Linked DNA regions of Homo sapiens: region 2 is linked to region 1. The links come from fine-mapping of genetic effects on gene expression. A gene starts in region 1. The other region holds a variant in brackets. All regions are shown on one strand. Distances are between the middles of the regions.

What was found. PIP is the estimated chance that this variant, and not a neighbour inherited with it, causes the effect.
Region 2: its variant is fine-mapped to the expression of GRIP1 in whole blood (TOPMed, PIP above 0.99). The same link has a PIP of 0.9 or more in monocytes.

Annotation. Positions count from the first base shown.
Region 1 is chr12:66,672,474-66,688,307 of GRCh38, reverse strand. It overlaps GRIP1 (glutamate receptor interacting protein 1), which reads left to right and starts at 9,232. Exons shown (of 25, transcript NM_001366722.1): 1 at 9,232-9,458. The coding sequence starts at 9,404.
Region 2 is chr12:66,400,794-66,416,627 of GRCh38, reverse strand. GRIP1 (glutamate receptor interacting protein 1) reads left to right here. Exons shown (of 25, transcript NM_001366722.1): 16 at 10,200-10,345. Among named protein-coding and RNA genes, the nearest start is that of HELB, 110 kb to the right of the region's middle. RefSeq lists an enhancer at 8,303-8,803. The variant C/A (reference allele first, on the strand shown) is at 8,792.

The DNA of each region.
Region 1 (15,834 bases):
GTAACAGAATGGTAGAACTGTAAGGAATTTTAGAGACACAACTGCCTTATTTTGCAGATCAAGAATCTAAAGCTTAAAAAAGAGTATTAGACAAGACTCTTTGATCCCAAGTGACAGAAATCCAACTCCAACTAAATTAGCAAAATGGAGACCATACTGACCGAAGTAACTAAGTCCGGTGTATTAGGGATTTAGAAATGGATGAATCCGGATGTTCCAATGGCATCTCCAGGAATATGTCACTCTCCATCCCTCGACTCTATTTTCCTCTGTCTTGGTATGATTCAAAGTCAGCTTTTCCCATGTGGTGATAAGATAGCAACTCCAAGTACATAGCCTGCCATTCCCAGTGGAATGCAGACTATCTTCTTTGCAGCAGTTCTAACAAAAGTTCTGGGATTACATCTCATTAGCATGGCTTGTGTGACTGCCTATTTCTGGACCAGTCCCCGTGACTAAGGGATTGTATGTTCCACTTAGTCAGCCTTGATACCCATACCTGGAGGGGTAGACGTAGGGGAGTGCCAGCTCCATGCACACCACATGGACCGAGAGTGGGTCCGCAAGAGAAAATTAAGGTGTTATTCCCTGAAGAGGAAGGAGCCCTTGATGCTGTTTAAGCATGAGCAATTCATGTGGATTAACTGACCTTTGGTATAAATGGGTTCTGTAGCTTTTAAGTTAAAATTTAGAACTACATGTTTAGTATTGTGAGTTAGAACTTTCCCTGTGAATATACTTTTCCAGCAAAGGAATTGTATTTTTTTTTTCACCTTTTTACATCCAGGGCCCATCATGGTGGCTGGCATAGGGGGTGTGCTCAGTCACTTTTACCCAAGATGAAACAGCCAATATGTAACTACATTAGAATTTTAACCTGAGGCTTCTGACTCCTTAGACATCTTTCAACTCTACCATCCTATTGCCCATGTTTAATTTTCCTTTTCCTTACTTTCCACCATTATTACAGTTAGTGATATTTGATTAAAATATTCTAGGTGTTAGTATTTGTCACCTAATTGCATGTGTTTTGGTGACTCATAGTACACATTGCTTGAAGGGGTGACAGAGTATTTCCACTTCATTGTATCAGAAAAGATAATTATGTTAATATATACTCGATAGGATACCTTAAAATATTGTCAGTACAGTTTTATTTGAAGGAGTAACGTGTCTTAGAATTGAGGAGGCTTTATTGTAGTGGTTTTTGTTTTTGTTTTTGTCTGTTTGTTTTGTTTTGTTTTGTTGAGATAGGGTCTTGCTGTCTCACCCAGGCTGGAGTGCAGTGGCACAATCATGGTTCACTACAGCTCAACCTCCTGGGCTCAAGCAATCCTCCCACCTCTGCCTCCTGAGTAGCTGGGACCACAGGTGTGTGCCATCACATGAGCCTGCTGAGTTTTAAAATATTTTGGTAGAGACAAGGTCTCACTATATTGCCCATGTTGGTTTCAAACTCCTGGGCTCAAGTGATCCTCCTGCCTCAGCCTCCCAAAGTGCTGAGATTACAGGTGTGAGCCACTGGCCTGGCTTTGTAGTTTGTTTTTAATATATGCATTCTTAATATGGAAAACTTAACTCCTTCCTATGCCACAAAAAGAAAGTCATCAAAATAGCAGCTGGAACAGCAAGAAGGTCTTGTAGTTAGTTTGTTTTTAATATATGCATTCTTAATATGGAAAACTTAGCTCCTTCCTATGCCACAAAAAGAAAGTCATCAAAATAGCAGCTGGAACAGCAAGCAGGTTAGTTTGGAGGTTGTTGTAGTACAAAGCCCTATTGAAGATGGAATTACAGAGTTTTTAGCAATGTATTACTAGAGCTTCCAAAAACAGACGCATGAATTACTTTAGAGATACATTATGTCCTTGACAGGCTATAATTATGCATGTTAGACCAGAATCTACTATCAGGATGAATGTGTATTTGGTATTTCCTTCATACACAGACCAAGACAAATTTTTAATTTTAGCATCTTTACTTTGCCTTTTTCTTTGTTGCTCTTGCTGCCTCTGACTTCAGTGAACAACTAGCTGGGCTGTATGTTTCTTCATATTTGGTGAACAACAGGGTCCTTATGATCTTGTCAGAAGCACCAGGAATGAATCTGAGGTGTGCTCTGGAAAGGTGGGCACAAAACACATGCCTTTTCCTTTTTCTCCTCTGCAAACAGTTAACATTCAAGAATCATGTTATTTGGAAGAATTTTCTCTTAAAGTGGCAGAGCTATTGTTGTTTTTTTAAAGTAATTTATGAGCGTCCTCTTTTCCATAAGAGTTTTACAAACAGTATTGCATATAAAAGAAATCCACTAGAAGGGAAATCCTTTCACATTTATTTATTCGACAAAAGTTTATTGAACATTGGCGCTATGTGCTAGGTACTGTTCTAAACAATGAACAAAATAGACCAAAAAATCCTGCCCTCAGTTTTAAAAAAAGCCATGGGCAGGGAGCAGCAGACAATAAACAGAAAAATAATCCAAATAGGTAGCGTGTTAGATGGTGATTAGTGACATAGGAATAAAATAAAACAAGAAAGGGTGATAAGCTGGGTATGGAGGGAGTACTGTCAATAAACTACTTCATCCAACCTGTTTTAGAAATCTAATTTCTTCCCTTGATCTAACCTAGCTGCTGTGCGCACATCACTGCTCCTTATGGTTGGGGTTGGATTTTTGAAGTAGCTGTGTTTCTTTCCTTCCTAGTAGCGCATAAGCCCACCACCGCTATATCCTGGGAGTGTGGAAAATGAACATTCTTTTAAGACAGCTTTAGTCTATGTATTGAAAATTAATCTTTTTAATTTGGATAAATATAGAACCTCTCCCTATTGGGTTTCCACTTTTCTTTATTATTCAAATAATGTGCTTTTATCTGCAAATTGTTGGTCAAAGTATCTGACATAACTCAGCTGTATGATATCCTAAATCCATGAGATTATTTATATTAAAGTACTTATTAATTTAGCCCTTAAAAAAAAAGAACAAAATTTGACTAGCCCTACAAAATTTGAAAAGTAATACTTCCCCCTGCCCCCAAAGAACTACTCAGACATTCATACAAATAAAAGCAAGTGTTGGTCAATGATTCTGGGATGAGTTAGGAGGAAGAACCCATGTGTGGGGCCCAGAACCTCAGTGCCTAGAACAAGGTAATCAGTAAAGGTCTGTAGGAGAAAACTCCTGTGCACAGTAACTGTGAAGGTCTGGACTAGGATGCTGGCAGTCAGGTGGGAGTATATTAAGAGGTATTTTAAAGGTGAGCTTAAGAAAGAGGGTGATGATGTAGTGAGCTCATGGAAGAGGAACGTGTGTCCTACTGGGAAGGAAATGGAGCTTGATACAGTTCAAATCTAGTTGGAGATGGTCATGAAGGCTGCCCACAGATGTTGGACTCAAGGATGAGAGAAGGTAGTTTTGTTTCGTTTCGTTTCGTTTTGTTCCATTTCATTTCATTTCATTTCGACAGAGTCTTGCTCTGTCATCCAGGCTAGAGTGCACTGGTGGGATCTCTGCTCACTGCAACCTCCGCCTCTTGGGTTCAAGTGATTCTCCTGCCTCAGCCTCCTGAGTAGCTGGGATTACAGGTGTGCACCACCACGCCTGGCTAATTTTTGTGTTTTTAGTAGACACAGGGTTTCACCATGTTGGCCAGACTGGTCTTGAACTCCTGACCTCAAGTGATCTGCCCACCTCGGCCTCCCAAAGTGCTGGCATTACAGGTATGAGCCACCGTCCCCCGCCAGGGGAAGGGAGTTTTAAATGAGGGAGCAAATTTGGGCTGACAGTTGAGATTTGAGAGTCAAAGCAAAGAAGTCATTGCTGGAGCCCTAGGAGAGGATAAAATGCTGAAGAAGGTGACCAACATGCTGTGACAGAGCTTGGGGGAATTCCGACATTTAAGGGTAGAGAAAGAAGAGGCATGAGAACAGGAAGAGGTTGCAGGAGTCAAAGAAGGGAAATTACTTCGTGCCATTGTAATGACAGAAAATGTTGTGGAAAAGGGTGCGTTTTACTTGTTAATCCCAATTCCACCTGCTTATGATTTCTCTGACCAAACCAATCCATACTAATCACATGGAGCTAATTTAAGGAAGAGTCTGGGTTCTGTAAGCAAGTGTCAAATTGTACAATTGTATTTCCTACCAAATACAAAGTGGCTAATAAAAGCTGTTACTGCTCTCTGTTCTAGGCACGTTACACAGATAAACTCAGTTTACCATTCAAACAAGCCTAGAAATGATTTTTACCGTTTTGCAAATGAAGAACAGAAAGGTTAAGAAACTTGCCCAAGGTCACGCAGCCATTTAGTGGCAAAAGCCAAGAGTCAAAGTCAGGCAATTTGATTCCAAGCTGTGTTTTTGGCCATTACACCATTCTCTCCTACATAATACCTCCATAAACAGTTGGACATACCTAGGCTCTTAGGAGGATGATTTCTGGTAGATTTTTCCTCTTGTACAAGCATTTCTCAATTTCTACATATTCTATCTTTAACATTTTCCACCAGATGCTTTTAGCTGATGAATTTCTAAGGTTGTTACCTTCACAGGAGCTTTCCTGGTCTCTTCATGTTCAGTGGAGGCAACCTTCTTTCCTTGGCACTGTTACGGGCATCAGAGCCCTGCCTAGATAAGCAAATGACACATGAAGTGTGCATTATACCCACCCTTTTATATCACAACACACCAGAGGCCCTGAGCTACTAAGTGCTTTTTAATCACCCCAGATTTGCAAGAGTATGTCCTAATGACACTTCCTAAAGGGCATCATTACTTCTATAAAAATGTTTTCTCATAAAATATTTGCTTTAAAAAATGCCTGATAAATTCTGTCTTGGGCAATTACACCAACTTTTCACACCCTTAGAACCTGTGTCAGCAAATTGGGTCTTGCTTTTTTAATAGTCCTTCATGACAGCTCATTACTGGCGAGTTCTGTTCAGTGTACATCTCCCTTGTCTGACCCTAATGTTTGGTCTCATGTTGACACACTAGTTGAACTAAGTAGCAGACAGTGGTCACAAGAATTATAACATGTTTGAGCTCATGGTTGCTTTTGGCATCTTTGAAAAGGGAAGTAAAAATGGCCGATTATAATAAGCTAAGAATGAGTCAGTGACGTTGTCTGTAAGGAGATGAAAAAGTGGGTGAGAGTCGCATTTTAAGACCTCCGAGAACACTGAGTTTTAAAATACCCGGAAGATTTGGGAAATACACAACATTTAATAACTGTGTATGTGTTGCAGGGTAGGGGGTGTGGGGATCAGTATATTCAATACTAGCCAAGTCAGGATGTTCCATGCTGTTTAAATAGTGAGCTAAGCATGTTAAGCATTTTTAAGCAACAGCATGCAAAGGAAAAGAAATGTAATAGTTAAATGAATAAGCAAATAAATGGGATCTATCAGGTATATTTTGTAACAGAAAGATTTATGAAGTTGAAGAAAGTGCAAATTATTTTAGCACTTTAATCAAATTGATTCTAATGATATAAAATAGTTGAGTATTTGTGGGATTAACCTCATTGTTTTGGTTTTTTGCAAAATGAATTTCCAGGTTTAGGCATATGGCAGAACATTTTTGGTTTATGATGATTCTTTCTTGTTAAGAATCAGAAGAACCTCCAAACAGCGCTATTTATTTTTGGGATGGAGATGTTATATAAAAGAATGAATACAATGGCGGAGAATCAAGGAAATGAGAAAATTAGAATAAGATTATGGGGCTATGTGTGCCACCTGCTGATGAAGCTGTGGAATGCTTTGGTTTTGAGACTATATTGGAATCTTTGAGCCAATCTTAAGGTTTTGTTTGTCCATACACCACAACCCACCCCCTTCTTATGATAAAATTAGTACCATATTGTCAATGGAGGTGATATTCCAAATATTTCAAAACCAGCATGACACAGGCCAGTCAGGATGGGCTAACCATGCAGTGAGAAGGGATTCCTGTAAACACTTGATACGTAATGGTCTTTCACCAGACGGTACTTGCCTTAACTGTCACCTGTTTCTGGTTCCTTCTGGTCAGGGTGGTCCTAGAACCATGAGCTGTGCTTCAGAGGGGAGAAGGTGATAGGCACTAGTTTTTCCCTCTGTCAAAAGATAACTGCACTTAAAGGTACTTTGTTAATTGAATTTGTCCCCCTGTAAACTAGATCACATTTTGTATTGGTGGCAAGGAAGCAGTGAAAAACAAGAGGAGAAAGAATGATTAGCCAGGGGTGAGAAGCTATGGTTCTTTCCTGTTCTTTACCACTTACTAGCTGAATGACTTTGATGAAAAACACCTTCTCTGAAACCAGTTTTCCTTTTCTGCATCAAAAACCTATAACAGAGTCGCTCCATGATACATTATGTGTGAAAGTGCCTTCTAATTCATTAAATTCTATGTAAACGTGGTACACTTGTATTACACCTTAGCAAAACTAATGTTTTAAAGAAACCCTGAAATAAGAATTATCATCTTAAGGGACTAGTCTGCCCTGAATCCAGCAAACCCATGTTTTCATGTATTGAGGTGTTTGTGTTTTTAAGAGGGGTAAACCTCTTGAACTAGCTCACTCACTCTTCTTCAGATCACATTGGGGCTTAATCAAATCTGTATTTTGTACAATTTTACCTGCCTTCTTTTTCCATAACCCCTACTTGGTGACCCTCACAGAGCATGTTGTAAAGTTTGAACTGTCTAGACAGCTGAGCCACCATAATTAACATGTTCATGACAGGTCCCAAAGACACATGCTTACATTGATCTGGTAGCCAAGAAATGTAGGTCACTCTGCCTTGTAGTAGCTCATGTTAGGAGCCTGTGGTCCACATTCCACCGGTTGCCTTGGCCATTTGAGACCTTCATCCTACAGATCGATACATTTTGAGATAGAAGGCTTGCATTGTTGGAAGGCATTTTACCAGTGCTAGAGTTCAGGATGGGAGGCTAAGCTTGCATTAGGCAAAGGGAGGACAAAGGGTTTAGGGCAAGAAGGTTGACCTGGGAGTGGCTCCCCAGGAAATCTCCAAGCATTAGCGAGGCCAGAAATGGAAGAAGATGGGAATACCTGGTGAATTCGTTCATTTTCTGGAAAAGAATTACTCCAGGAGGCTCCATTTCTGTAAGATTCCTGGGGCTGCACCTGGGCAGACTAATAGGATAGATATGGATTGGCAGCCACAGTATTCAAAGAGAGAAAAAACAATCCCCTAGTTTGGGCTCTCAGAAACCTTTCAAAGAGCTCCATGATGGGTTATTTCCCCTGCCAAAGAAATAGGACATTTTAGTAGTTCTGAAGACCTTTCTTGGGACCAGAGGATAGAGCTTTTAAAACAAAACAAAAAAAATAAGCATATTAGGAAAAGGGGAAAATATTTGATCATTTTAGTCATAAGGAAAAAGCAAATTGGATTTGAGTCTGCAAAATAGCAGAAGGCAAGAGATTCCTGTATGGTTTTGAGTTGTATTTGAATAGACTGGGCTGGGGTGGTGGTGTTCCACAGGCAAGATTCTACTAATAGTAATTGACAGCTGCGTATTCTGAGTGCCTGGATTTTAGGAAATATGTTAGATTTGGAGAAGAATCTTGGAAAGAGCTAACTGTAAGTATTTATCTCACTTTAGCTAGTAACTCAGTTCTCTAGTACTAAGGTATATTTCTATTTAAAGCAAAAAAATATCAAGGAGGCTAAACTATTTCTAGGGATAACCTAATAGAGATGAACATAATATGGGTTGAAATTCAAAGAAAGATTTATGCTAATCAGAACAATTATAAAAATTTGATTTTGCACTGCAGTCCATTTAATATAGTATTTTCTATTGATTAGTGGTTGCTTTAGCTAGACCATCCTTGGTAAAAGAATTCTGTTCTTTTCAAAAACCTTTAAAGTAGATGCTTATGATATTCAGATGTTTTTCACACACAAATTATTTTTCTATTGGACTCAAAATACAAAGCATATGCATTTCAATAGCAGTGGATTGAAATTGTTTGAGTTCATATTGAATTTATGAATGAAGAAAAGAAAGTTTTACCACTAAATTTGGAATGTTGGAAGTTATTTTAAAAACCAGCTTGAAAGTTTTTTCACAGCCTGAAGAGTAGAGAATAAAACTGTATGAATAATTCATAAAGTCCTAGAAATATTAATCAAGTAGTTTAGACAGTGATATATCTTTTCATTTTGACTAATTGATTTTTTTTTTCTTAAACTTCCTGGCCAACTGTCTAATTTTTTGTCCTGAATGTTTATGTTAACTCCTGTGGGAGAATTCTGGATTTTGATTAAAATTCCCTACCAAATGTTAGTTCGTATTGACTATATGGCGAGCAGGCTGCTGCTGGCAGATGAGGAGGTGTGCTCCGCCTTCTTATCACTTTGTGAATGGATTGTGAAGGGTTTGTTAATTTGCTCTTCACTCCATTGGAGCAGATACTCACAAATATCTGCTATGTCGCAAGACCGTTTTATTTGCATAATGAGAAGAATGGTTTGGGGGATGGTTGTTTGGGAAATAGTATAATAAAGTATATTAAAAATAGAAATACTTGGCCTTGTTTGCCTTTATTTCTGGTATCTTTAGAAACAGTCTTGACTGTGTTGCTTTCCAGCCAAGTCCTTTTTTGGAAGGGTGATTAAAGGGGCTGGGACTCCATCTGCCTGATTGTCTGCCTAGCCCTAACCCTTTCTTGTATTCCCTCTATAAACAGACACTGCCTTAACTCTCATAGGTTCAGGAAGTACCAAAGAGGTCTCTGTCCTAGAGCTGCTTCCCCGCTATAGGCAGAACTGTGATTCTTTCCTCAATCCCAAATATAAACGGCCCTCCCTCTTTTTCTTTCCTTTTTTTTTTTTTTTTTTTTGGTTGTTGTTTAAAGAACATAGTACATGACCCATGCATTTCTTCCTAAAGTAAGAGTGTAAGCATTTCACTTGCATTTCCCATTAAATGAGACATATAAAGGACACTGACTTGATGCTGAGAAGGAAAGGGGCTGATGGTGGCTGAACTGACTGGATACATCGCCTTTTGCCTTAAACAGAATGCACTGTTCAGTGCTTAGCGTTAGATTTATGGAATGGCTCCTCACACAGTGTCGTCCCTGCTTTGTACAATTTGGTGCTTTGTTGCTATCGAAACGGCATTACTTTCTAAGCCATTGTGATTGTGAAGGGGGAGGAGGCTGTGGCAGGCAGGGGTGGTAGTAGTAGTGAATGACACAGATTTGCCAGATGACATGTAGCGGACCTCTGCATCAGCCAAGAGGAATTAAGCTTTGTCACTCCCCACTGGGACTACCTTTCTCCTGGTATGTGCGCAAGGAATTCATATGCTGCTGCTGCTGCAGCCACCAGAGCAGAGAGCCTTGAGTACACTTTGCCACAGAAAGCAGTGAGCAAGAATGATAGCTGTCTCTTTTAAATGCCGTTGTCAAATTCTGAGGCGACTTACTAAAGGTATCGTGCTTTCCTTGTTATTCCCTCAGCGAGTCTGTTGCAGTATCCTATAAACACAGTTTAATGGTTTTTACTTTCAAATATGACTGCCTTTGCAATTTATTGTCAGGCAACAAAGAACTCAGTGAAATATGTATAGATACATATGTACAGGTAGACTCGGCTTTGCTTTCTGTCCTTACATCTCGGTTGTGTTCGTGCTGAAATTATGAAAGCAGCTTGTGTGATTTTTTTTTTAATGACTTCATTCTTTGCTGAAAAGAGAATGTGTTTGGGTCCGGTGCTGAAGTTATTGTGGGAAACCGTCATTTTGCATGCTGATTAACTGGCCAAAAGGAGTCAAGTGTGTGTTACTGTCCTTTCTATGATACATATACTAAATGCAGCTGGCAGATTCAGGACTCGCACAGCTGGTGGATCCACAGAATAATTGTTTGTTCTATGACTTTCCAACATCTTAAGAGCTTTTTCCCTGGACAGCTTTAATTTCTTTATGTGTTAGAATTGCATGTTCAGAAAAGTATGTAATTCCAAATGCTTTGGTCCTATGTAATACTAGAAGTTTATTTGAAAGTAAAAATCATTGCTCGGAATCTTATCATCAAGAATTACCAGCTTCAGATTGTCACTCTTAGAACTCTAAAATAGTAATTAAATTTCTCTGTAATATTTAAGGTATTATTTTATTTGAAACCATTCTGGATGTGCCATCTCGTTTACTTTGTGAGCATTCTATTGCAAAGTTAGTAAATGGATGCCTTAAAAATCCTGCCTTGTGTCCATATAGATATGTGAGCTCTCTTGCCTTATTTCCTTTAGATAGAACCTTCCTTAGAGAAAATTTATTATTTAAAAAAAAACTTCATTCTGAGTAAAAGTATTTAGTTGCAAATGCCTTTCTTTTTCAGCCTGTAATATAGAGTACTGTTGAGTAATTAATGGATATAATTATGTTCTAGAAGCTCTGAACCTATAAATATGTTAATGGATGCTATTTCTGTCAGTTTAGCTTGACATATCAGAATTCTTTGATCACCAGCAGTGCAGCTAAAAATGCAATTAATATTTTATCTGGCAGAAGAATGAGCACAAAGCAAATCATGAGAAATAGATCTTGAGTCAATAACAGGAAAGAGAATAAATACTGTAGACCAACTTACCGAATGCATTTGCAAGTTGTTTGGATAGCAGAGTGAGTCCTTTAAAAGGTACTTTGGGGGAAATGTAGGGAAGATTATACATTTTAAATTAGGCTATTAGCAGGAGGCTGTAAATTCTGTTTTGACTTTATCCTCTACAATTGGTACAGACGTACAATTTCTGTTTATAAATCATGACTAAGAGACTATCCTTTCTGTTACGGTTTTGGCTGAGACTTTTAAAGGCAGGCCCTTATTCTGAAAAGTTCTTTTCTGACCTGATTTTGGCATTTACTTATCTTGATGTTGAGAAGTTGATGGTCTTCTTACATCATAAACATGAAACAATCAGTATTTTCTATTCATCTGTATCAGTTCTTTTATAAGTACTACATACAAGGAAGAGAGTGAACCCAAGCAATTTATAGTTCTTACAAATATTTTTAACTTTCTCAGTTTTCTGAATTTTATGGAAGCATTGATCTCCTGCATTGAAAGGAGATTTAAGTGTTTACTAAGATAGTCGCTAAAAATCTAGATAATTGAGGAAAGTATTGATAACTGCTTTGGAGTTGCTACCTCACACTTTTTTCCAAAATCTTTATGTCTGCTCTATTTGGTATTTAACTTAAGACTGTCAGTTGATGATTAAAATAAAATCTCTTTGCAGAATCAATTTGCCATAATTGGGTTCTTCTTTGTGTTTAACTGGCTGTCCAAATACTTACAAGAATGCACCTGAGTAACACGGTACCTTGCCTTGCCATCTGCTTCAGTCTTGTCCAACAACGTTCAAGTTCCACCCATGCTTCTTGTTCCAAAGTGGATTCATTGAGTTCTAGCACCCCACCCATACTTGTGGTGCTGTTTTCTTAAGCTGTAATGATAAAACCAGGAAACATATGTAATTACAATATTAAAATGACCTTTCTTTTAGGGTCAGGAGTGTATTTGGGGACAGGGGTGGATATACACTTGAAGTTTCTTTCTTGTCCCATTCTCCCTACTCACACAACTCCCACACCCTCACCCTCAACTCCCAAACATACATATTTCTTTATACCCATTGAGGGCTCCACCTAACACTCACTCTTCCAGACATTTAGCACAAGGCATTACACTTAGTAGGCACTTCAAAACTGTTTGTTAAAATGAATTGGATTTGTCTAGTTGAAAGTAGTAGGGCATTTAAATCTTCTGTGAGCTCTTAGGAAATGCTTCAAGAGCTTTATTAGGCCTCTTGTGGCTAAAACCTTACCCAGATCTTAGCAGGGGGAAGTTTGCTTCATGACTCCAAAACTACCTTGCTATTTGTGGTTGATATCACCCACAAGAAAAAGCAATATGGCAATTGCAATTTCTTCTTAATTTTCTTAAGGAGAAAATGATGGAATAAAAGGGAAACAATTTTCTACAAACACCCACATTCTTGATATTTTTACTTGATTCTTACATTCTTCATATATCTAATACATACTTAACAAATATCGATTAAGTACCTACTATGTGCCAGACACTGACATTTTTGCACTTAGAATTCTGGGCTGGGACAATTTATAGGTGTAAAAAGCATTTTTAAAATGAATATATTATTGAACAATAAATATTTTTTCTTTAGGTCAGATGTAATTTTAAAAGATGTATAAAACATGTATTTCTAGACAAGTCCTTGGATCACTCCACATAGACACTGATCCACAGTATTATAGTAGAATATATTTCAGGTAAACTTAGCACTTCTCTGACTTGGGAATTGAGTCATTTTCTTATTAATGTTTCAAGCCACTGTTTCAATCATTTTGCCTTATCAGGTACCTACCAATGTAGAACAAGAGCAAGAAAATAACCTTTACCCAAAAGGCCCATGCCTGCCATTATGAGAGGAACTTTGGTTCATGAAAACACCAAGCACCGTCAAAAGCATTCCGTTTCCCATCTAATATTGAAATCTAAAGAAGCAATGCCGTTCTTTTCTTCCTCCAGAATGAGAGTCTACCAATTACCCAACCTTAGAGCCAAATCCCAAAATAACATTTTGTGAGGTTTCCAGAGACATCTGACAAAAGGGTTTTCTGGAGTGGGTAAATCTAGGCTTCTTGGCACCTACCTTCACAGCTGTTTACCTGGGACAGCCCTGGTTTCTCAGCTAGGGGCTACCATACCTCAGGGGAAGGGAGTATGTTCTCAGAGAAGGGGAGATATTTTCATGGCTCCCACAGACTTTGTTCTTTTTCTCTTGTCATGATTGTGTGATTACTTTTCCTTGAGACAGTTTGGCCTCATATGCAGAGAATCACTTTCTCTGGTGATATGGGATGTGACTCTGCTGCTTGCTCAGGTGCTGCCATTTTGAGCTCCGAGATCTGAACTTTCGTGCTCCACTGGCAATGGCATTTTTCTTTCACAAGCTTCACTCTGCCTACCAATGCCAACATCAGCCAATTAATATTTACTGACATTCCACAGGGAGCACGGCTCTGGGCACCTTTCATTGTTTTGCTGCCACCCACCCTCTCTCTCTGTCTTTTCTCTACTGGCTCAAAGCTCATGTCGGAAACCTTTGCCTTCACTTTAGTATAGACTTCAACATTTTTCATCATAGCTGGCCTACGTGTCATTTTATTTTCTACTTATCTTCACTTTCTCTCTCTTCCCAAATACACATATGGCCTAAAATAGAATTAACTCTCCCTGTCCCTTTCCCACTAACAAACTATAAGCAGCCCCGTTGACCTTCATCCCAATGGGGTGTCTAAGTGAGACATCTGTGGCTGGCAGGGAACTGCTCCCTGCTGTGCATTCTACTTTCTTTCTCTCTCCCTCTCTTCTTCCTGATTTCTCCTCCCAACCTCAGTATCTTTTCTCCTTTTCTGCTGTCTGGGCATGTATGGGTATTGCTCTCTCCACTGGCACTGAGCAAGATTAAAAGGCTGGGTTGTGATCACACTCACTCTCATTTTTTCAGTCATTGTTCCTTACACTTACCCCAATCATGGAATCATTATGCTTGAAAGGGAAGGTCAGACATTCGTCTAGGACTTGTTTCCAGAGAGAACTGAAACTCAACCATCTCAGACAACCAGTAATCTTATTCTCAATTCTCTCTGACAAGAACAATCTCACAGTTTGTCTGATAAACTTTTAATGGATTACTCAGGTGACGTCTAAATCCCTTTAAACTCTGACACTCATCCTGTGTTTAAAAGTTCTTCTATTTAGAAACTCATTTCCTAAGTGTAATCTTAATTAAAGAAACACATTTAAATGTTTTGTCTTAATGGAAGAGGAAAAATATTTCCCATCTTTTCTCATCTGCAGAATCTTTTAATCCAAGGAATTCTGAATCCATCACAGAGTTCAGTATCAGTGTTCCAAACCTGATGGCTCCTTTGCTGGTGGCCTTGGATTTTCTGTTCTGGTCACTTTGCTCTTTCCCATCTGTCTGTGTCTAGCCTTGTGGTTCCTTCAGCAGTCTTCTCTAATGATTCCTCATCCACTCTGTGATATGATTCAGAACTGATCATCATCTGGGTTGAGAATGCTCTCTCTCTCTGTGCTGGACCTCATTTCTCCTGTCTCCCCATCCTCATCCATTCTGCTAACCCTCGCTGGCCTTCTCTGTCAGATCCTGCCATCTGGAACAACTTAACTGTATCCTCCACCTCGTTAACTTTCCACCCCTTTCCAAATCTCACCTGCAACCATGTCCTTTCTGCTTTGCCTCCACCCCTTCATTTCATGCCATCAAAGCTAGTGCATTTAACGTATTTATCTTTCTAGCCTATCAACTTTTTAAAATAATATGCACTTAATAGATATTTCACAAAGTAAGTCTGTCTTGTTTTATTGGAGTTTCATCTATTGCTAGGGCATGGGGCATATTTCTCTTGCAAATAGAGAGACCCCACTTGAACAGGAGAATGCTGCAGCTGGGTCCCAGGCAGGTCTTGTTCTCGCGCAAGTGCTGCTCGTGGTCCAGATTGTGATGGATTTCTTGCTGTGCTTCTAGCCCATGCTTTGAGGGAGTTTACATTGAACAGTGGCTTGGACCGCTTTACTCTCCACTGGACTGAAGCTTTTCGTTTATATAACTAGTTAGAATTATCATAATGGCGCATTTATTTCTCCCCTGTCTTCCAAATGGGAATTGGATGCTAGAAATACTTTACCTCGTTCCAGGAGGTACCCATCCTCCAGAGGAAATTTTGGCTATGCCTTGTATGACCCCATATAAACAAGAAGGAGTCTACACCCTTCTTATATGATTGTAGCAGGTTAGGAAGAAATATCTGGTTCATTACTGGGAAAAGGAGGGCCAATGTAGGATAGGCATTCTAATCGATTAACTTATATACTTTTGGGAAATGTTTAGGAGGAAGAATGGAAATAAGGATAGCTAACATTTATTGAGCACTTACTTTCTGCCAGGTACTATTCTAAACATTTTACATGTACTAACTCATTTAAATCTTGCAATATTATCGTCATTATCCCCACCATACAGATGAAAAAGAAGAGGTTCAGAGAAGTTAAGAATCATTCCTAAGATCACAAGTGGAGGACAGGAGGAACCCCAGTGTTTCATTTTTGCCATTTTTTTTCTCTTCTAGAAACGGATAGAAACCATAGACCTGCCTATCTAGAATAATAAAGAGAAATTAATCAAGACAACACCACACTAATCTCTCAGCATTCCTTATGGTAGGGGAAATAGAATAGACTTAGAAATTAGAAGATATGTCAACCTTTCCTAGCTTTCCTATTTTTACTTGTGTGGCAAAAACAAACAAACAAAAAAACTGAATTTCCCCCACTAAATTTCAGTTTCTTAATCTGTAAATTAAAAATTACTTGTGAAAACTGTTTTATACTCATGTTAGCTATAACAAAATGATTTAATTTTCTACTACAGTTGATTTATTTGAAATTCTTATATTAGTAAATTCACTTTATTCTGGCGGAAAATATATAATTTGATAACTTCCCACTATTTGAGAGGAGGCAAAATACATAGTTTCTAGGGATAGGCAAGCCGTCAGTGTTTGAAACTCATCTTTTTCTCTCTTTTAGTTTCTTACCACTTTTTTGCCCATATACATGAGAATTATGTTAAATTTAAAATTAGTAACTGCTGCTTTATTAAATATACAGAAGAAAATCTTATTTGCAGATTTTTAAAATAATTATTTGTTTCAGTATCGCATATATCCAAAAAAAAAATGCACCCAGATATTTAT
Region 2 (15,834 bases), 270 kb after region 1:
GCTCATAGGAGCCACTAATGATCCTTTGAATTTCTGTGATATCAGTTATAATGTCTCCTTTTTCATCTCTGACTTTATTTAGTTGGGTCTTCTCCTTTTTTTATTTTTGTTATTAGTCTTGCTAAAGCTTTGTCCATTTTGCTCACCTTTTTAAAAACATTTTGTTTCATTGATCTTTGCATTGTTTTCTTCATTTCAAATTCATTTGTTTTTGCTCTGATCTTTATTATTTATTTTCTACCACTAATCTTGGGTTCAGTTTGCTCTTGCTTTTCTGATTCTTTAAGATGCATTGTTAGGTTATTTATTTGAAGTCTTTGTTCTTTTTTGATGTAGGCACTTATAGCTAAAAATTTCCTGCTTAGTGCTGCTTTTGCTGTATCTCATTGGCTTTAGTGTGTTGTGTTTCCATTATCATTTGTTTCACGAAATTTTTTAATTTTCTTATTAATTTCTTCATTGGCCCACAGGTCACTCAGAAGCAGGTTGTTTCATTTCCATGTGTCTGCATAGTTTACAAAATTCGTCGTGTTTTTTTTTTCTTCAAATTTTATTTTAAGTTCCAGGGTACATGTGCAGGATGTGCAGGTTTGTTACATAGGTAAATGTGTGCCATGGTTTGCTGCACAGATCAACCTATCATCTAGGTATTAAGCCCAGTCTCCATTAGCTATTCTTCCTGATGGTCTCCCTCCCATCACCTCACCCATGACAGGCCCCAGTGTATGTTGTTGTTTCCAATGTGTCCATGTGTCCTCATCGTTCAGCTCCCACTTATAAGTGACAACATGCAGTGTTTGGTTTTCTGTTTCTGTGTTAGTTTGCTGAGGATAAAGCCTTCCAGGTCTATCCATGTACCTGCAAAGGACATGATCTCATTCCTTTTTATGGCTGCATAGTATTCTGTGTGTATATATATCACATTTTCTTTATCCAGTCTATCATTAATGGGCATTTGGGTTGATCCCATGTATTTGCTATTGTGAATAGTGCTGCAGTGGACATAAGCGTGCATATATCTTTATAATAGAATAATTTACATTCCTTTGGGTATATATCCAGTAATGGGATTGCTGGGTCAAATGGTATTTCTGCTTCTATATCTTTGAGGAATCGCCACACTGTCTTTCATAATGGTTGAACTAATTTACATTCCCACCAACCATGTAAAAGCATTCCTTTTTCTCTGCAACCTCACCGGCATCTGTTGTTGCTTGACTTTTTCGTAATTGCCATCCTGACTGGCATCAGATGATATCTCATTATGATTTCAATTTGTATTTCTCTAATGATCAGTGATGACGAGCTTTTTCTCATGTTTGCTGGCTGCATGAATATCTTTTTTTGAGAAGTGAAGTTCTTTGTAGACTTTGGATATCAGACCTTTATCAGATGGATAGATTGTGAAAATTTCCTGCCATTCTGTATGTTGTCTGTTCACTCTGATGATAGTTTCTTTTGCTGTGCATAAGCTCTTTAGTTTAATTATATCCCATTTATCAAAGTTTCTTTTGTTGCCATTTTCCTTTGGCATTTTCGTCATGAAATCTTTGCCTGTGCCTATGTCCTGAATGGTATTGTCTAGATTTTCTTCTAGGGTTTTTATAATTTTGGGATTTACATTTAAGTCTTTAATCCATTTTATTTTATTTTATTTTATTTTATTTTATTTTATTTTATTTTATTTTATTTTATATAAGGTGTAAGGAAGGGGTCCAGTTTTAATTTTCTGCATACGATTAGCCAGTTCTCCCAGTGCCATGTATTAAATTGGGAATCCTTTTCCCATTGCTTGTTTTTGTCAGGTTTCTTGATGATCAGATGGTTATGGGTGTGTGGTCTTATTTCTGAGTTCTCTAATCTGTTCCTTTGGTCTATATGTCTGCTTTTGTACCAGTACCGTGCTGTTTTGGTTACTGTAGCCTTGTAGTATAGTTTGAAGTTGGGTAGCATGATACCTCCAGCTTTGTTCTTTTAGCTTAGGATTGGTTTGGCTATACAGGCTCTTTTTTTATTCCATATGAATTTTAAAGTAGTTTTTTTCTAATTCTGCAAAGAATGTCAATGGTAGTTTAATGGGCATGGTATTGAATCTATAAATTACTTTGGGCAGTATGGTCATTTTCATGATATTGATTTTTTCTATCCATGAGCATGGAATGTGTTTCCATTTGTTTGTGTCCTCTCTGATTTGTTTGAGCAGTGGTTTGTAGTTCTCCATGAAGAGGTCCTTCACTTCCTTTATTAGCTATATTCCTAGGTATTTTATTCTCTTTGTAGCAATTGTGAATGGGAGTTCTTTGATTATTTGGCTCTCTGCTTGCCTATTGTTGGTGTATAAGAATGTTAGTGATTTCTGCACAGTGATTTTGTATGTGGAGACTTTGCTGAAGTTGCTTATTAGCTTAAGAAGCTTTTGGGCTGAGATGATGCGGTTTTCTAGATATAGGATCATGTCATCTGCAAAGACAATTTGACTTCTTCTCTTCTGATTTGAATACCCTTTATTTTTTTCTCTTGCCTGATTGCCCTGGTCAGAACTTCCAATATACTATGTTAAATAGGAGTGATGAGAGGGCATCCTTGTCTTGTGCTAGTTTTCAAGGTGAATGCTTCCAGCTTTTGCCCATTCGGTATGATATTGGCTATGGGTTTGTCCTATGTGGCTTTCACTATTTTGAGTTATGTTCCTTCAATACCGAGATTATTGAGAGTTTTTAAATGAAGGGATGGTGAATATTATTGAAGGCCATTTCTGCATCTATTGAGGTAATTATGTGGTTTTTGTCTTTAGTTCTGTTTATATAATGAATCACATTTATTGTTTTGTGTATGTTGAACCAACCTTGCATCCCAGGGATGAAGCCAACTTGATCGTGGTGGATAAACTTTTTAAAGTGCTGCTGGATTCAGTTTGCCAGTATTTTATTGAGGATTTTTGCATCCATGTTTATCAAGAATATGAGCCTGAAGTTTTTACTTGCTGTTGTATATCTCTCCCAGGTTTTGGTATCAGGATGATACTAGCCTCATAAAATGAGTTAGGGAGAAGTCCCACCTTTTCAATTGTTTGGAATAGTTTCAGAAGAAATAGTACCAGCTCATCTTTGTACCTCTGTTAGAATTCAGCTGTAAATCCATGTGGTCCTGGGATTTTTTTGGTTGGTAGCCTATTTATTACTGTCTCAATTTCAGAACTGGTTGTTGGTCTCTTTGTTCTCATTAGTTTCAAAGAACTTCTTGATTTCTGCCTTAATTTTATTATTCACCCAAGGTTCACTCAGGGGCAGGCTGTTCAATTTCCAAGTAGTAGTGTGGTTTAGAGTGAATTTCTTAATCTTGAGTTTAATTTGATTGTGCTGTGGTCTGAGAGACTGTTATGATTTCAGTTATTTTGCATTTGCTGAGGAATGTTTTACTTCCAATTATGTGATCAATTTTAGAGTAAGTGTCATGTGGCAATGAGAAGAATGTATATTCTGTCGTTTTGGGGTGGAGAGTTCTGTAGATATCTGTCAGGTCCACTTGATCCAGAGCTGAGTTCGAGTCCTGAATATCTTTGTTTATTTTCTGTCTCGATGATCTGTCTAATATTGTCAGCGGGGTGTTACAATATCCCACTGTCACTGTGTGGGAGTATAAGTTTCTTCATAGGTCTCTAAGAACTTGCTTTATGAATCTGGGTGCTCCTGTATTAGGGGCATATATATTTAGGATACTTAGCTCTTCTTGTTGAATTTAACATTTTTTTTCTATCTTTGTTGGTTTAAAGTATCTTTTGTCAGAAATTAGGAGTGCAGGCTCTGCTTTTGTCAGTTTTTCATTGCTTGGTAAATTTTACTCCATCACTTTATTTTGAGCCTATGTGTGTCACTGCATGTGAGATAGGTCTCTTGAAGACAGCATACCAATAGGTCTTGGCTCTCTCTTTATCCAGTTTGCCATTCTGTGTCTTTTAACTGGGGCATTTATCCTGTTTACATTTAAGTTTAGTGTTGATATGTGTTAATTTGATCATGTCATCATGATGCTAGTTGGTTATTTTGCAAACTTGTTTATGTGGTTGCTTCATAGTGTCACTGGTCTGTGCATTTCAGTGTGTTTTTGTAGCAGCTGGTAATGGTTTTTCCTTTCCATATTTAGCTCTTCTTTTAAGAGCTCTTGCAAGGTAGGCCTGATAGTGATGAATTCCCTCAGCATTTATATGTCCGAAAAGGATCTTATTTCTCCTTTGCTTATGAAGTTTAGTTTGGCCAGATATGAAATTCTGGGTTGGAAATTATTTTCTTTAAGAATGTTGAATATTGGCCCCCAAACTCTTCTGGCTTGTAGAGTTTCTGCTGAGAGGTCTGCTGTTGGTCTGATGGACTTCCCTTTGTAGGCGTCCTGGCTTTTCTTTCTGGCTATGCTTAACATTTTTTTCTTTCATTTCGACCTTGGAGAATCCAACGATTATGTGTCTTGGGGTTGATCTTCTCCTGTAGTATCTTATTGAGGTTCTCTGGATTTCCTAAATTTGAATGTTGGCCTGTCTTGCTAGGCTAGGGAAGTTCTCCTGGATTATATCCTGAAGTACATTTTCCAACTTAGTTCTGTTCTCCCCTTCTCCTTCAGGTACCCCAATCAGTCATAGATTTGGTCTTTTTACATAATCCCATATTTTTGGAGGTTTTGTTTATTCCTTTTTATTCTCTTTTCTCTATTCTTGTCTGCCTGTCTTATTTTAGAAAGATAGTCTTCAACTCTGAGATTCTTTGTTCCACTTAGTCTATTTGGCTATGGACACTTGTGATTGCGTTGTGAAGTTATCATGTTGTGTTTTTCAGCTCCATAAGGTCATTTATGTTTGTCACTAAACTGGCTATTCTGGTCATCAGCTCCTGTAATGTTTTATTATGATTCTTAGCTTATTTGAATTGGGTTAGAACATGCTCCTTTAGTTCAGTGAAGTTCATTATTACCCACCTTTTGAAGCCTACTTCTGCCAATTCAGTCATCTCAGCTTCAGCCCAGTTCTGTGCCCTTGCTGAAGAAGTGTCGCAGTTATTTGGAAGAGAAGAAGCACTCTGGCTTTTTGAGTTTTCAGCAGTTTTAAGTTGATTCTTTCTCATCTTTGTGAACTTATCTACCCTCAATCTTTGAGGTTGCTGATCTGTGAATGGAGTTTTTGTGGGGTCTTTTCGTTAATGATGTTACCGTTGTTGCTTTCTGCTTATTTGTTTTTCTTTTAACAGTCAGGCCCCCTTCTGTAGTGCCGTTGTGGTTTGCTGGGGGTCTACTCCAGACCCCAAGCCTGGATCCCTCCTGTGACAGCAAAGGCTACAAAACAGCAAAGATGGGAGCCTTCTCCTTCCTCTGGGAGCTCTGTCCCAGAGGGGCACTGACCTGATGCCGATCTGGAGACCTGGAGACCCCTGTTGGGAGGTCACACCCAGTCAGGAGGAACGGTATCAGGGACCCGCTTAAAAAAGCAGTCTGGCTGCCGCTTGACAGAGCAGGTGCACTGTGATTTGGGGAACCACCCTCATCCAGACCACCCAGACCCTCCAGAGCCAGCAGGCAGGAAAGGCTAAGTCAACTGAACAAGAGAGACCATGGCTTCCCCTCCTGCAAGGGGCTCCATCCCAAGAAGATCAGAGTTCTATTCATAAAACCCTGGCTTAGAGTGAATTTCTTAATCTTGGGTTTAATTTGATTGTGCTGTGGTCTTGAGAGACTGTTATGATTTCAGTTATTTTGCATTTGTAGTTGCTGAAATTCCTGCAGGTGGTCTATAAGGTTCTTGTACTTGAATATTGATATCTTTCTCTATGTTTGGGAAGTTCTCTGTTATTATCCCTTTGAATAAAATTTCTACCCCATCCCTCTCTCTACCTCGTCTTTAAGGCCGATAACTCTTAGATTTGGCCTTTTGAGGCTATTTTTTAGATCTTGTAGGTGTGCTTCATTGTTTGTCTGTTTGTTTGTTTGTTTGTTTGTTTGTTTTGAGACAGAGTCTCACTCTGATGCCCAGGCTGAGTGATGTGGTGCAATCTCGGCCCACTGTAACCTCTGCCTCCTGGGTTCAAGCGATTCTCCTGCCTCAGCCTCCCAAGTGGCTGGGATTACAGCTGCACACCACCATGCCCAGCTATTTTTTTTTTTTTTTTTGTATTTTTAGTAGAGACGGGCTTTCACCATGTTGGCCAGGCTTGTCTCGAACTCCTGACCTCAGGTGATCTGCCCACCTCGGCCTCCCAAAGTGCTGGGATTATAGGCGTGAGCCACCATGCCTGGCCCAGCTTTTTTTTTTCTTTCATCTTCTCTGGCTGTGTATTTTCAAATGTCCTGTCTCCAAGCTTACTAATTATCTCTTCTTTTTTTTTTTTTTTTTTTTTTGAGACGGAGTCTCGCTCTGTCGCCCAGGCGGGAGTGCAGTGGCGGGATCTCGGCTCACTGCAAGCTCCGCCTCCCGGGTTCACGCCATTCTCCTGCCTCAGCCTCCCAAGTAGCTGGGACTACAGGCGCCCGCCACTACGCCCGGCTAATTTTTTGTATTTTTAGTAGAGACGGGGTTTCACCGTTTTAGCCGGGATGGTCTCGATCTCCTGACCTCGTGATCCGCCCGCCTCGGCCTCCCAAAGTGCTGGGATTACAGGCGTGAGCCACCGCGCCCGGCCACTAATTATCTCTTCTGCTTCATCAATTCTGTTGTTAAGAGACTCTGATGCATTTTTTTAGTGTGTCAATTGCATTTTTCAACTCCAGAATTTCTGCTGGATTTTTTAAAATTATTTTAATCTCTTTGTTGAATTTATCTGATAGGATTCTGAATTTATGATCTGTATTATCACACACTCAAAACTTTATTGTTTACTCAAAACAGTAATTTAGAATTCTCTGTATGAAAGGCCATACATCTCTATTTCTCTGTGATTGGTCTTTCGTGCCTTATTTAGTTCACTTGGTGAGGTCGTGTTTTCTCAGATGGTCTTGATGCTCATGGATGTTCATTGGTGTCTGAGAATTGAATTGTTAAGTATTTATTATAGTCTTTGCAGTCTGGGCTTGTTTGTACCTGTCCTTCTTGGGAAGGCTTTCTAAGTATTCGAAGGGGCTTGGGTGTTGTGATCTAAGTTTTTGGTCACTTCACCTGTATCTCCATTAGGGGGCACCCCAAGTCCAGTAACACTATGGCTCTTGCAGACTCAAAAATACTGCCTTGGTGGTCTTGGGTAAGATCCAGAAGAATCATCTGGATTACTAGGCAGAGACTCTTGTTCTCTTCCTTTTCTTCCAAACAGATATAGTCTCTCTCTCAGTGCTGAGCTGCCTGAAGCTGAGGGGTGGTGGGGTGACACAAGCACCCCTTGGTCACCACCACTGAGACTATGCTGGTTCAGACCTGAAGCCAACGTGGTACTAGGTCTCAACTATGGCTGCCAGTAAACCCTTACTGGCTACCACTAGGCCATGTTCACTCAAGGACCAAAGGCTCTACAATCAGCAGGTGGCAAAGCCAGCCAGGGTAGTATCCTTCTTTTCAGGGCAGTGAGCTCCCCCTGGCCCCTTGCAGGTCTAAAGATGCCATCTAGGAGCCTGGTCCTAGAGTCAAAAACCTTAGGAATCTACCTGGTGCTCTATTCTACTATAGCTGAGCTGGCACCCAAGACACAAGACAAAGTCCTTCCCATCCTTTCCTCAAGGAGAGAAGTCTCTCCCCCTGGCCACCACTGCTCCAGGCCCATGGCAAGTACTGCCTGGCTATTGCTGATGTTCACTCAAGACCCAAAGGCTCTTCAGTCAGCTTGTGGCGAATGCTGCCAGGGCCGGGACTCTTCTTTCAAGGCGATGGGCTCCCCTCTGTCCCAGAGCAGGTCCACAAACGTCCAAGAGCTAAGGCCTAGAATCAGGGAACCCAAGAGCCCACTTGGTACTCTACCCTACTGTTGCAGAGCTGGTACCTAAGCTTCAAGATAAAGTCCTTTTTACTATTCCTCTGCTTTTCTCAAGCAGAAACAGCCTCTCCCCATAGCCACCACAGCTGGGAATGTGCTGGGTCACACCTGAAGCCAGCACAACTCAGAGTCTCACCTAAGGCCCACAGCAAGTACTACCTGACTACTGCTGCTGATTTTATTTTTTTATTATATTTAATTTTATTTATTTTTTGAGACAGAGTCTCATTCTGTTGCCCAGGCTGGAGTGCAGTGGTGCAATCGGCTCACTGCAACCTGCACCTCCCAGGTTCAAGTGATTCTCCTGCCTCAGCCTCCCGAATAGCTGGGATTACAGGCGTGCACCACCACGCCTGGCTAACTTTTGTATTTTTAGTACAGACCGAGTTTCACCATGCTGGCCAGGATGGTCTTGAACTCCTGGTCTCAAGTGATCCACCCACCTCGGCCTCCCAAAGTGCTGGGATTACAGGCATGAGCCACCGCGCCCAGCCATGCTGCTGATTATTCAGGGCCCGAGGGATATTTAGTCAGCAGGTGAAAAATGCTGCCAGGACTGGGTCCTTCCCTTCAAGGCAGCAGGTTCCCTTGCAGCCCTGGGTGTGTCTAGAAATGTTATCCCGGGGCAAAGACCTAGAAAAGGGGCCTTAGGACTCTGCCCGGTGCCCTGTCGTACTATGGCTGAGCTGATATCCAAGTTGCAAGACAAAGTCTTCTTTACTCTCCCCTCTTCTCTACTCAGTTAGAGTGAAGGACTCTCTCTGGGAGTTGTGAGCTGTGCTGTGTAGGGCTAGGGGAGGGGTGTTGCAAGCACTCACTTAGCCACCCCAGCTGGTTTCTCACTAGGTCACATG[C/A]CCCCCAAGTCTACTGGCTCTGAGCTCAGCACAGCATCAGGGCTTGTCCAGGAATTGCTGTCTTTGTGGCTTTAAACTGTCTTGAGTTTATTTAGTACCCAAGAACACTTTAGCGTGCAGCAGTGAGGCGTGTTGGAACTCAAGTTCTGACCACCGGAATGGGTGATTCCCCTCTGCCTAGGGCTGATCTAAATGTTCCCTCCGTGGATATCAGCTGACTTCTGCCCAGTGTTGCTTTCCGCTGTGACAGGGTAGCACTGAGTTTCAATGCAGTCTCTCCCTCACTGTGTTCTCCCTCCCACAAGTGCACAGTTTTTCTCTCCATGCCATGTGGCTGCTGCAGAAGGAATGGGGGAGGGGCCGGCATCATCAGTTCAAGACTTTCTTTCCTACCCTCTTCAGTGCCTCTTTCAATGATATGAAGTTAAAACCAGGTACTGTGATTGCTCATCTGATTTTTGGTTCTTATAAAGGTGCTTTTCTGTATGGATAGTTGTTAAATTTGGTGTTCCTGCAAGGAGGATGATCAGTGGAGGCTTTTATTCAGCCACCTTGCTCCGCCTCCCTCCTGTTACCATTTTCTAGCTACAGGCAGGAGGTGGGGAGGGTCCCCAGAGAGTCTGGGGCATGCATTTTTAGAGGGTAACTTAAAAGAAGGGAAGGGAGAATGGATGCTGGGAGACAATTAGCAGTCTCTGGCACAGATATAATGCATAAAAGGCTGTTCTTACAAATCTGTGTATATATACATATACACACATAGAAACATATACATACTACATTCACATTATTTTTTTTGTTGTTTCATTATGGACCTTAAAATTTTTTTCAACAGACCTACCCTGGTCCACAGCCAGTTTTAGAGTCTCAGTGGCCACTTTCCAAATAAGAAGCTATGGATTCATCTATAAATTTTCATGCTACTCTGGCCATAGTGAGTTTCCAGATGCAAGTGGAAGTAGCAGAGGTGCAAGCCTTAGGCTTCCACTAACTCTATTACACCTTGCCTTCTGTCATTCTCTTAATGCTCTCCTAGTATCTGGACTACCAAGGATCAAAAGTAATACAACAATATGGAGAAAGACAAGGATACCTGGGTCTATGCAGACCCTCGCCCATTACCTCCCTTCCTAGGAATTGTATGCTTCCTGAGTGACACATATGTTCTTGTTTAATTGAAAAAAGTATAAGAAAAAATGTTTTTAATACTCTGCAATTTAATATCATGGCAGGCAACCCAAATAAGACTAGAAGAAGGGAGGGAGTTGTCAATGAAGTACAATTTAAAAACAGTTGAACCTCTTTTCCTCTAAAGACTACCATAATGCTGCATTATGCTTAATGCCTCTTTAAATGGCCTAGTTAAGTGCTCATCATTAGTCATGTGTTACTTTGCATTCACTAACAGAACTGGGACCCTGGAACTTGGGGATAAATTGCTCGCAATAGATAATATCCGGCTGGACAACTGTTCCATGGAAGATGCAGTTCAGATCCTCCAGCAATGTGAAGACCTGGTGAAGCTCAAAATCCGCAAAGATGAAGATAATTCAGGTATTGAGAGCATCCTTAGTTAAAACTGATTTTTCGAACTGCCCATCTGTCACCAAAGATATTAGATCTTGATGTTTTACATACAACAGCTGGCTAGTGATGTGGCAGCAGTGTTTCACAGCTAAAAGAGTCTTTAAATTTTGTGCTGAGAGTGTAGTACAAATTTTAAATAATGGTGCTTGTAAATGATATCATTAAGATATTTTCATTATAGAAAACATATTATAATTGCATGAAAATAATTTTTAAAGATGAAATCTAAATCATCATCTAATACAGTGAAACTGGTAGTTTTCTAGTTTTTATTGGTATTCATATGGCATAACTATAACCAAGTGAATGTTGCATTTTTTTACCTAATTTTACATTGTAAACATTTGATCGTTTTATAAACTCTTAATATCTATCATTTTTATTGACTGCCTGTGATTTACCTTTCTTCTCTTCTTAAATCACTATATTGCTTCCAATTGTTTCATTATTGTAAATAGTACTCTTATAGACATCTTTATGCATAGATATCTTTATCCAGCTTTTTTTTTCTTTTGAAATAAGAAAATATTCCTAGAAGCAGGATGGCTGAGTAAGAATACAAAGGAAATGTCTATGATTCCTGATGAGTCAGTCATGCCCCATGTTGCTTTTCAAAAGGGCTATACACATTTTTTAGGCCCTCCAATCAAACTTAGGAGGGCATAGAATCATATCTGAAGAGCTTGTTAAAACACAGATCCTGGCACCACCCCAGGTGGGACCTGAGATTCTGGATTCCTAATAAACACCCAGATGCTGCCACAGCTGTGGTGCAAGGAGCACACTTTGGGTAGCCCTGAAATAAGAGACATCTTATCTGATTATGATAAGAATATAGAGCCAATTGAAAAGTGTCCATTCACCAAAAGAGTCAGCTAATGTGGGGAATTACAGAATGTGATATGGATCCATAAAGTAAACGTTTAATTTACAATTTTGCCAATCTCGTGGGTAAAGTCAAGGCCTTTCCTATTAATATGGTTCTGCTGATTATACTTACAAGTCTTTTTGTTTGTTTGCCTAAACCGTATCCACAATATATATTTTATGATTTCCAGTTTTATTTTGGTTTGGTTTGGTTTTTAATGCAGTGAGACTTTAAAGAATTTATAGCAATCTGAATTCTTCCTCCACCTAGATTTTGGTTTTCCCCAATGTTGTAGAGTTTTTCCATTAGGTAATTAACAGTAGATGTTTTGTTTGTTTGTTTCTTGTTTTGTGTGGCACACCCAGGCTGGAGTGTGCCATGGAGTGCAGTGGCGCCAACTCTGCTCACTGCAACCTCCACCTCCCAGGTTCAAGCAATTCTTGTGCCTCAGCCTCCTGAGTAGCTGGAACTACTGGTGTGTGTCACCTTTCCTGGCTAATTGTTGTATTTTTAGTAGAGATGGAGTTTTGCCATGTTGGCCAGGCTGGTCTCAAACTCCTGACCTCAAGTGATCTGCCCACCTCGGCCTCCCAAAGTGCTGGGATTACAGGTGTGAGCCACTGCGCCTGGCCATAGATTTTTGCCTAACGAACCCTTATTGAATCTTTCCAAACCATTGGATTTTGTTTTCATAGAACAACTACATTCATATTTCATAGGTTATATAAGATTAATTAAATTACATAGTTAAAATAACAAGTACAGCTGGCATAAACGGGTTTAGGAATAAATATAATTGCCTCTAGATTTTGAAGTTTACAACTCAAGCAGGAGCAGGAGCAGAAGCCCAGAGGGGCAACATAAAGAAACCTATTGCTCTGGAGCATGCCATGGCATTGGTCTGTACATTTTATGGTGGAAGACGAACAGCCACAATTAATTCAGTAAATTGGTTAAGTGGAGATTGGTTAAGAGAACGTCTACTGTATATAATTTCATTGCAACCAATAATGAAGTTGTGGCAATGTTCTGGGATTTTGTTAATCAGGTCATCTAGATCTAGAGTTCACGGTTATGTCAGGCTATGTGTTTATGATTCCTTTTCCAAGTAAAAAAAAATCTATAGTTGCATCCATCAGTACAATTGATAATAATGATTATATCCAAATATATTTTATAACCAATGTTTAAAAATATGCACAGGTTTGCACTCATTATTTCTTAAGCAACTGATTTTCTGTGCCAACATTTGCATTTCTCTCCTTACAAGCCTGCTTCAGTTGCACTTTCTTTTGGGGATTGATTTCAAAATAGAGAGGAAGCCTTTAGCATCAGCCTGGGTTCTGTCCTAGTGAAGAGGCAAAGCCCTGTGGAGAAACCTGTTTTGCATGATTTGCCCTGCTCAGCAGATGTCAGCTACCTTCCTTGCAAAGTGAAAAAGCCAAGCCAGAGATGAATATGTATAGTGTGCACAGCTGGCAATGCACCCAGTTTCAAAGCCAGGCTGTGTCTACCAGTTGGCAGGAGTTTCTGAAACAACTGAGCACTTGGAGAGCTAGATCTTATTTTCAGTTACTGATTTCCTTTGCCTCATTTTCCCCCTTTATACCCTTCCCCTACAATCTCTATGTATACTATTATGATGGTTATTGTGCTTATTAAATATGTTTTAATTTTAAGAGGCTCTGTTTTTAAAATCCTAAACCTTCCATTGAAAAACATACAACCACCCAAAATAAGACTATAAATATTGGCATGAGAGATATGCTTACCCAAACCAGATTTTCTCATATTGATATACAGAAATATATACTCATTCAGACATGGTTTTATAAAAGATCACTCTTTGAAAATTATTCAGTTATTGATTTGGAAGAATTTATATGATCCTAGTATCCTCTTCCCTCATAACATCATAAATATAATTTGAGTATCTGAATTCATTTTTATTCAGAGCAAAGTAAGGGAGGAAAAAAAAACATTATTCAAAATGTAAAGCCTGACCACAGATTATTTAAAGGCAAACTAAATCTTCACAAAGAGCAAATGTTTTAAAACCAGACATGATATAAGAACTCAGAAGAAGAGAGGGTAGACGGGGGATGAGGGACAACAACAACTACATATTGGGTACCGTGTACACCACTTGGGTGATGGGTGCACAAAAATCTCAGGCTTCACCACTACACAATTCATCCAGGTAATGAAAAATCACTTGTACCCTTAAAGCTATTGAAATAAATTAAAAAAAAAAATCAGACCTCAGTTTAAAGTTCAGCTCTACCACATTTGAGCTGTGAGAGTTTGGGCAACTTGGTAAACTTGTCTGAGATTTGGTCCCATTTTCAGTAATGTCTACATAATAGTACCCATCTCAGGGAGCTCTTGTAGCTTACTGAAGGAAATACTGGCACAGTCCATGCTCCACTCAATAAGTGGGGACTATCTGTATTCTAATTACCTCCTGAAATCCCTTTCTCTGCATTCGTTCTGATCCTTGATCAAGATATGACTGAGTGGAAAATAAGCATTTACCCTTTGGACAGTCACTGATTTTGAAAGTTTGATATAATGCTTAATCTGAAATTATGCTGGTGATTAGAACTATCACATTAAATAGTTGTCATGCTTCGTCTCAATATTTTTGAATGGTAATATTCAGCGTATATTCTCCACCCCCAGAAATATTGCTCATACTAATGTGGGCCCTCTGCACTGCAGGAGTTTTCCAGTCCTTTAACTGCTGGCTGCTCTCCATCCTTCAGTGATGATTCTCTCTCTGGTCACAGGAAGTTTATAACTATACTTGATGGAACTTGGTTTCCTAAGCTAGCTTGTACTGCAATTGGGGTTTAACAGATACTACTTCAAAATGTAAGCATTTCTTCCAGCTTCCCAAGTCTCGCTACCCTGCTGTGTACCTTACCCAAGGAGATGGTAGAACTATTCCCAAATGCTGCTAAAGCCCTCGATTTTCAGTCATGCCATCAGCATTCGTTTATTGTCTATGAAGTATCAGGCAATGTGCCATGGACTACCAGTTCTTAGATAAAAGGGACACAATCCTGCCCTTAAATCAGTTACCACCAAATAGGAGAAACAAGAAAATCAATAATTAACAATATGATGAATGTCATAAGGATATGCACAAAATATTCCACAATGGTAAGAGAATGTGAAGGCATCCATTTCAGCCTGAGGACCTCAAGGAAAAGATTCTAACAACCTTGGTCTCGAAGGGATTTGTGAAGTGGTGCAGAAAGTTAGGGAGAGCATGGCACACTCTAGTAGGCAGATATGGCTCAAGCATAACGTGTGCAAGGACTTGGTAGTAGGTAAGCTAGAAAGGTATACTGGAGCCAAGTCATTATGGGCCTTGTAAATCATGTTAAGAAATTTGAATTTTATCCCAGAAACCAATGGGGGGCCATTAGAGGACTTAAAACAGGAATGAGGCCCACTGGACTTGGTTAGTGACCATTAATTTTAATCACTTGATGAAAGCGCTGAATGAGCCATTCAAGAGAGTCTGAATTAACTCTGTTTCTAGCCCAAGCTGGGGGAAACAGTAGAATGAAAGACTAAGAATGCCAGACTGGCTTCACAACTGACAATCTGGGAAATTTAGGCAAATTAACTTCTCTGAGCATCAGTTTCCTCATCTGTAAATGTCCATTTAATGCTTACTTTACATGGCTGTTTTAAGGATTAAAGGAGGAGATATATGTGTGTGTGTGTGTGTGTGTGTGTGTGTGTGTGTGTGTGTGTGTGTATATATATATACACACATATTTTTTTTTTTGAGACGGAATTTTGCTCTTGTCGCCCAGGCTGGAGTGCAATGGCACAATCTCGGCTCACTGCAACCTCCGCCTTCCAGGTTCAACTGATTCTCCTGCCTCAGCCTCCCAAGTAGCTGGGATTACAGGTGTCCACCACCATGCCCAGCTAATTTTTTGTATTTTTAGTAGAGATGGAGTTTTGCCATGTTGGGCAGGCTAGTCTCGAACTCCTGACCTCAGGTGAGCTGCCTGCCTTGGCCTCCCAAAGTGCTGGGATTTACAGGTGTGAGCCATCGCACCTGGCCTAAAGGAGGTAATATATTTAATAACTCACCAATAAGTTTGCACCTAGTGAGGCCCAATGAATGTTGACTATCAGTGGTCATTACTGTATTTGGATATTTTAAAAGTGAATTTCAGCTTTATTTAACAATGGCCAAATCTTTTGGAACACTTGGGGTTGTAGGCGTTTTCCTCCCTCACTCTGAATTCAGCCACCCTCCTGCCTTCAGGAGCTTCTGCATTTGTCGTCTTCCATTACTGAAGGAATGTAACTCAGGTAGTGTCCAGTGGTTCTTGTGTGGGTCCAAGGCTCTGGGATTCCTGAGGCTGCTACCCAATCCCCAATACCCAATCAGCAATGCAAATAATCCTCTTGAAAAAAATCTATTGTTTTGCCTTGATGGTTTCTGAGTCCAAAGTAAATGAAGAGAGTTGGAAGACCTGGCTAGGGCCTGAGAGGAAACCCTGAAGCAAAGCAGTAGAGACTTTTGGGGATTTGTAGGAAGAGATAGAGGTTTGCAAAT